Linked DNA regions of Homo sapiens. The protein of the gene in region 1 interacts with the protein of each later gene in a pairwise test. Each region holds a gene or a part of one and is shown on either strand. Other genes may lie near its edges.

The links.
Region 2: the proteins of OIT3 (region 1) and LCE1F interact in binary tests that used the Homo sapiens proteins (3 or more experiments, as listed by UniProt).

Annotation. Positions count from the first base shown.
Region 1 is NC_000010.11:72,892,014-72,895,933, reverse strand, and holds the start of OIT3 (oncoprotein-induced transcript 3 protein precursor), read right to left. Parts: upstream 2,196-3,920; 5' UTR 2,136-2,195; coding exon 2,075-2,135; intron 1-2,074.
Region 2 is NC_000001.11:152,772,581-152,776,500, forward strand, and holds the start of LCE1F (late cornified envelope protein 1F), read left to right. Parts: upstream 1-2,559; 5' UTR 2,560-2,610; intron 2,611-3,769; 5' UTR 3,770-3,791; coding exon 3,792-3,920. UniProt on the Homo sapiens protein: Precursors of the cornified envelope of the stratum corneum.

The DNA.
Region 1 (3,920 bases):
TCTTATATCCTGTTTTTAATCTCAGCGTGAAGCCCAGAATCTGGTATTGCGCACATTCATCCTAAAATGCTGATCTATACATCTCAGTGCGAAGGCTTCAAAAAGAACAGCTTCCTGGCCTGCCAGAAGCTCCTCAATGGTTTGCTAAGATGCCCACTTGCCAGCTGCCCCTCTGCTGTCTTCCACCAGGACCACGCAGGGCCAAGGGCAGGGAACCATGTCTGCGTCCCCACCCTTTCGCCCCAGGGTTGAGTCCTCCAACCCTCCAGGTCCTATCCGGCAGACAGCCGCCCCTGAATCACAGCCCCTTTTCGACCCTGTGCCTGAGCTTGGTCGGGAAGTGCCCCTCCTTTCCTGCTCCATCCTCTTCCATCCTCCTCCCTCATCACCCCACTTTGCTTCCCCCTTTCTCATCCCTTCTTTTCCTCTTCTCTCACTTCCCCTGTCCTCTCAGGGCAAACACCAGCTCTAGTTCCCAAAGTTCCCCCTTTATCATGCTTCTGGCATTGAGCCAAATATCATCCTTGAGGAGCTGGGGGTTGGAGGAAAAGATCTGGGAAGGGCGATGGTATATGGAAAGAATGGGGAATATAGGAGGTACTAGAGGGAGAATAGGTAAGGAGAAGGGTGGGAAGAAAGGGGAGTGGAGATTTTCGGGAGGACAACTTTCTGAGCGACCCTTGGGTTAGTTATTGGCAGCAGATAGGGGGTGATTAATGACAGGTAGCTCAAGCATATTTTTTGGAATAGTTTTGGATTTACAGCATAATTGAGATGATAGGACAAAGAGATCCCACATACCCCACACCCAGTTTCCCTTGTTATGACACGTTACCTTTAGCCATACATTTACCACACATTGGCATGGTACCTTTGTCACATTAATGACCCACTATTGATACCTGATTATTAACTCAAGTCCACACTTATTCAGATTCCCTTAGTTTCCACCCATATCTTTCTGTTCCAGGATCCCACATTACCTTTAGGTGTCAGGTCTCCTTAGGGTCTCAAATCACCATTTTTATTTTTATTTTTATTTTTTTGAGATGGAGTCTCCCTCTGTTGCCCAGGCTGGAGTGCAGTGGTTCGATCTCGGCTCACTGCAACCTCCACATCCCGAGTTCAAGTGATTCTCCCGCCTCAGCCTCCCAAGTAGCTGGAATTACAGGCATGCAACACCATGACCATCTAATTTTTTTGTGTGTATGTATTTTTAGTAGAGACGGAGTTTCACCATGTTGGCCAGGCTGGTCTTGAACTCCTGACCTCAGGTGATCCACCCGCCTTGGCCTCTCAAATGCTGGCATTACAAGTGTGAGCCACCGTGCCTGGCCACAAGCCTATTTTTAATGTGTATCCTTTCAGGTACTAGAGCAACCATGAAGAAATAAGCCAGGGTCAATTAGATACTGAGCTACTCAAAAGTGTCAAGAAGGATGGTTCTCTCCATCTCACCCCCACCCTCTGTTCCAGTTAGTACTCACATTCTACTAGAAAAAGATGCAAGAGAGAAATCTGTTAGTAACTGGAATTGAAACTTTTCTTTGCCTGACTGGCCAGTTTTGCACCAAGCCTGAGGAGGGAGACAATTTAAGATTCACTCGATCTGTGCAAAAAGTCTTATTTTCTGACATAAAGACTAATGAGTTTGGTTTATCCAGATCTGTGCCCCCCATGGCAACAGAGCTTTCAGTCCCTTGCCTTCATTAAAGAAAAATTCTATGCTCAACTTTAATTTTTTTTTTTTTGGCTCTTCAAGTTGGAACTATAAAGTGCCTAGAACACAAAGAAGATAGAATTATTTTTACACATACTCCAGGAACTCTTTAGCTAGTGAAAGCTGTGGGATATGGCAGATCCATGGAAATTTTGGAGTCCAGGCAAGAGGCTAAATGGAACATGTAACAGAAATTCTCGGGAAATCTATTTTCAAGGATTATTAGGGACTTTTCTTACAAGATTCTAGAGCTAGCATTTAAGGTACTGGAATCTAGTTCTTAATCATCTGTACATTATAGCAAATTGCCACAACAAAAAGTGCATTGTGCCAAGTTCTTGACATGAGACTCACCCACGGGTGACACGGAGGTGCCTGTGATGAAGAGGCAGGTGAGAAGCAGGAATGGAGGCATCCTTCTGGACCAACTGCCAGAAACACTGGAAAATCCTCTTAATACTGGTGTTCCTTTGTCCCCTTCTCTTTCAAGCACTTTTTTTTTTAAGGCCTCTAGGCTCTCACGAGAAAGACTTTATCAGCACTGGTAGGGGCTTTATCAGAGGAAGAGGATGAGGATGAGTGGGATAAGGTGTCCACAGCTCTGGCCTTGGCCCCAGAGAGAAGCACTGCTTTACACTGTCAACAGGGTTCCTTTATTAATAGTTTTCTTTAGGAAAAAAAAAAAAAAACACAACTCACAATCCCTCATCCTCCTATTGTTTTCTCTCAAGAATTCCCTGCAATGAAACCCCAGTATCTTATCCAGAAGGGAATTCTAAATGAGGGACATCCCTTCACGTCAAATTCTTGCTTTGTGACTTCTAGGAATTGATTTCACAATGTTGCAGCCATAGCACTGCACACTAAACGAGAATGGATGAAGCCAAATCACTGCAACTGTCTTGGTCAGATGGTTGAGGAGCTTATAATAGCACACAAAACAAAGTAGTAAGGACAGGTATGAGACAAGGACAGTATTCTCTTGAAATAAGCTCCTGAGTTTGTTTTATTACGGTCTTTGGCCTCAAAACTTCTGAAAGAAACAAGGTTTAAATTGTGTTTTTACTAATTCAAGCAGCAATACCTCATATTTTTATTGTCTTTACTCCCAAAATTAAAAAATGGTTTAATGTTATTTATTTCACTAATTCTCACATTAAGATGGGGTAGGAGCTTAAAATTAGAAACTACTCATTAAATTAACACTCTGGAAAATTAAATGTCAAAATTTCCTGAAGTTTCACTTTTAGACAAAGGAGAGAAAATGTGCTTCTTAGCACAATTTTTTTTTTCAGACGGAGTCTTACTCTGTCGCTCAGGCTGGAGTGCAGTGGTGTGATCTCGGCTCATTGCAAGCTTCGCCTCCCGGGTTCACGCCATTCTCCTGCCTCAGCCTCCCAAGTAACTGGGACTATAGGCGCCCACCACCACGCCCAGCTAATTTTTTTGTATTTTTAGTAGAGACAGGGTTTCACTGTGTTAGCCAGGATGGTCTCGATCTCCTGACCTCGTGATCCGCCTGCCTTGGCCTCCCAAAGTGCTGGGATTACAGGTGTGAGCCACCGAGCTCGGGCAATCACTGGTTTTTGACAATGACAAAAGTACACATGGTCTCCAGAAGCACAGGGTTTATGGTCAAGCAAGGGGTTTCCATTGATCTAAAATTGTAGTTAGCTACTTCATTACTAACATCAGTGGGACACAGGCAATTTGACCATTAACTTATTAAGTTGTGGTTTGATGGCAGCAATGGATGACTCTGCTGTCTCATTGCAGGATAGTGTTGCTAAGTATCAGTGCTTTAAACAGAAAAAACAATCCCCCACAACTTCCTGCGCCTAGGAAGCCATCTGAGGGCTTCATATGTGTTGCAGAGAAACAGAGGACGTGTGCATGAGATAAACCCAGACTTGTTGCCAGGATTGATTGCTGGAGTCAAGGACTTTCACCAGATAGCCTTTGGTTCTGTAAACAAGAATTCCCAGGATGGTAAGATGTTTTTTCCCCCTTATTTCTATTTTTTCCTTTTTAGTTGACCTGCTCTTTCATTTTTTACTTTTTATGATGAAAAATTTCAAATATATATACAAAAGTATAAAGAACAATAATGAACACTCAGCTATAATAATTACTAACATTCTATCAATTTCATTTACATACCAGTATGCATTTCTAACACATTGTATTTTTTTACATAATC
Region 2 (3,920 bases), on another chromosome or scaffold:
AGTAATGGGATGGCTGGGTCAAATGGTATTTCTAGTTCTAGATCCCTGAGGAATCACCACACCTACTTCCACAATGGTTGAACTAGTTTACATTCCCACCAACAGTGTAAAAGTGTTCCTATTTCTCCACATCCTCTCCAGCACCTGTTGTTTCCTGACTTTTTAATGATCGCCATTCTAACTGGTGTGAGATGGTATCTCATTGTGGTTTTGATTTGCATTTCTCTGATGGCCAGTGATGATGAGCATTTTTTCATGTGTCTTTTGGCTGCATAAATCTCTTCTTTTGAGAAGTGTCTGTTCATATCCTTTGCCCACTTTTTGATGGGGTTGTTTGTTTTTTCCTTGTAAATTTGTTTGAGTTCATTGTAGTTTCTGGATATTAGCCCTTTGTCAGATGAGTAGATTGGAAACATTTTCTACCATTCTGTAGGTTTCCTGTTCACTCTGATGGTAGTTTCTTTTGCTGTGCAGAAGCTCTTTAGTTTAATTAGATCCCATTTGTCAATTTTGGCTTTTGTTGCCATTGCTTTTGGTGTTTTAGACATGAAGTCCTTGCCCATGCCTATGTCCTGAATGGTATTGCTTAGGTTTTCTTCTAGGGTTTTTATGGTTGTAGGTCTAACACGTAAGTCTTTAATCCATCTTGAATTAATTTCTGTATAAGGTGTAAGGAAGGGATCCAGTTTCAGCTTTCTACATATGGCTAGCCAGTTTTCCCAGCACCATTTATTAAATAGAGAATCCTTTCCCCATTTCTTGTTTTTGTCAGGTTTGTCAAAGATCAGATAGTTGTAGATATGCAGCATTATTTCTGAGGGTTCTGTTCTGTTCCATTGTTCTATATCTCTGTTTTGGTACCAGTACCATGCTGTTTTGGTTGCTGTAGCCTTGTAGTATAGTTTGAAGTCAGGTAGCGTGATGCCTCCAGCTTTGTTCTTTTGGCTTAGGATTGACTTGGCAATGAGGGCTCTTTTTTGGTTCCATATGAACTTTAAAGTAGTTTTCTCCAATTCTGTGAAGAAAGTCATTGGTAGCTTGATGGGGATGGCGTTGAATCTATAAATTACCTTGGGCAGTATGGCCATTTTCACGATATTGATTCTTCCTACCCATGAGCATGGAATGTTCTTCCATTTGTTTGTATCCTCTTTTATTTCCTTGGGCAGTGGTTTGTAGTTCTCTTCCTGAAACTCTAAATACATGGGTGCTAGAATGTTTGATATTATTCCACTGGTCACTGATCATCTGTTCATTTTTTTAATATTTTTCCCTTTCTTCAGTTCAGTTTGAACAATTTCTTCAAGTTCACCGATCTGTTCTTCTGCAACTTATAATCTGCTAAAACCATCCAATAATTCTTTGATGTTATATGTAATTTTGACCATATTTATTTTTCAAATATTGGTTTTTTATTGTTAGATTTTGCATTTGGTTAGTTTTGAGCATGGGAAACTGGGAAATTAAACCCAGGAAATGTGTATTGCAACAAAGCCAATAATTTCAAATTAAATATTGACTATGTCTATTCTTGTCTATACCAACTACACCACTCCAAGTCACAGTTCAAAGCCACCTCATTGGCTGTTCTCTTCTCTTCACCCTTCTCATCTTTATTTTACCTCATCCCTTCAGCTTTTCCTCAGGAAACTGCAAATTCTTTTATGCTATAATTTGGGGCAATATACATCCTTTAGTCCTCTTTTCTTATACCCACTCTGGATCTACCTTCAGAAAGCCCTATTCACTGAGGTACGTAGGAGGAAAAAAAAATGGCCTTTAGTTTTAATAAGAGCCACCTAACTTAAAAGGCACCTGTGACTTTAAAAATTCCCAATGTCCATTAAAATCTCAGGTTTGCCTCTATTTTTCTTTCTATCTATCTATCTATCTATCTATCTATCTATCTATCTACCTATTCATCCATTTCCTAATTATAACCACATGCCACATACTATCTCAGCTACTTCCCCTTTGTTATCTTAATTAATTTGTAAATCCTGCAGAAAAGATATTTCTCTTATTATCTTCATTTAAAACATCAGAAAGCCAATGGCCAAAAATATTGAATACTTTGCCAGGGTCTCCAAGGCCTCTTTTCTCGACTTCTATGATGCACACACATGCCCATGTGCACATGGACAAACCCCATAATGCAGGCATGTGGATTTTTAACCAAGCTATATGGACCCAAAGGTCTAGATGGAAAATTAGTATCTAGAATAGAAGGAAAAATGAGTTGTTTGTGCAGAATTCATAAGTGTGACTACAAGACTGTGAAGAGAGCCATCTTCATAGGAAATAGGCCACGGAGGACTCCAGGAACCATGATGTCCATTTTCACCCACCACAAGCCCCCATTTCCACCAAGCTCTTTCCTAGCTGACAGCAGCTCCCCTGAACACCAATGAAGGACGGTATATGCAGAACTGCCAGTCACCACTCGTCACAAGACCTATGTGGGTGTCGGGAGGCAGGTCCTCTCATGCCCAGGCTCTGTCTCACCGCTGGAGGCAGCACCCAAGGACAGAATAAAAGGGCTCAGGGCCAGAGCATCCCATCCACTCACCTCCTGCGGTGCTGAAGAACCCTGTGCTGCCTGTGATCCTGGTAAGTGTGCCCTGGAAAAAGGAGCAGGGGCTTCCACAGAGGGATGCCCAGGCCAGGGAAGGAGGGGATGGATACTCAGACCAGGGCAGGAGTAGAGTCTAGGCAGGGCCTCAGGGGCCTGGAATTGTGATTGGCAAGGAATGGGGTGGGGGCAGAAAATTGGAAAGAGGAGGTAGAGGGGTGGGGTGGAGTGAGAGAGATTAAGAAGAACTGGTAAGATCTGAAGGGCTGTATGACACAGATTTAGAGGAACCAAATTGTTTTCAGTTGCTCAGTGTGTTTCTCTGGTTTTAGAGAATAAACACATTGGCCACTGGATGTTGCTAGAGTGGGCTGCATAGTGGGAATATAATTTTGGAAATACAGACATACTCACTTTTAGAAAAGATATGCTGAGAACACTGCTACTTAGAGGAAGAAAGGATCAAAGACACCTGTGGATCTTGTTAGATGCCAACAAGAAGATCTGTAGTGGAAAACTGAGTGCACACTGGAGTTTAAAAGCCATGTGACAGTGCCTGGGGACAGGCCTGGGGAGGCAGGATGTGCTAAAGGGCAGAGCCCAGGATGGGAACCAGGGGACCCCGGAACAAATGTGACTGTTAATGAATAACTTTGGGCCAGTGAAGTTACCTCTTTTGGCTTCAGTTTCTTTATTTATATATTGAGTTGGTTGGAACAAATTGACTCCAACATCCTTTGCGGTTATAGTTTTCTCTATTTCTGCAAACTGAAATATATCAGTTCTTCCAATAGAAATTTATTTTGATTTTTCCTTAAAGAGATTTTCATCTCTAAACTGGTCTCAACATTGAACATTTTCAGAATTCTTGGTGATGTGATAGAATGAATGCTGGCCCGGAGCCAATTTATTTCCTGGACTTCTCTCCCACACTTAGGAGCTTTTAATGAGCAGAAACTTTATTTACATATTTGGAGATTATATATTGCATGACAACATCTCAAATAAGGTTTGAAATGAGAATCCATGAATGAAAGCACTTGGTAAACATTGAGAGTGATAAAAACATTAGAGGTGATTTTCCTATGTTTGATATAAGGCTTTCAAAATGAAGGATCTAGAAATAATGCAGAAAGGACAAGAATAGGCAGGGGTGTCCTCTGCCTCCATCTAACTTGCTGTCTGACCCTCCTTCAGCTCCTGAACACCCGCCACCGAGATGTCTTGCCAGCAGAGCCAGCAGCAGTGCCAGCCCCCTCCCAAGTGCACTCCCAAGTGCCCTCCCAAGTGCCCCACACCGAAGTGCCCCCCAAAGTGTCCCCCTAAGTGCCCTCCTGTCTCTTCCTGC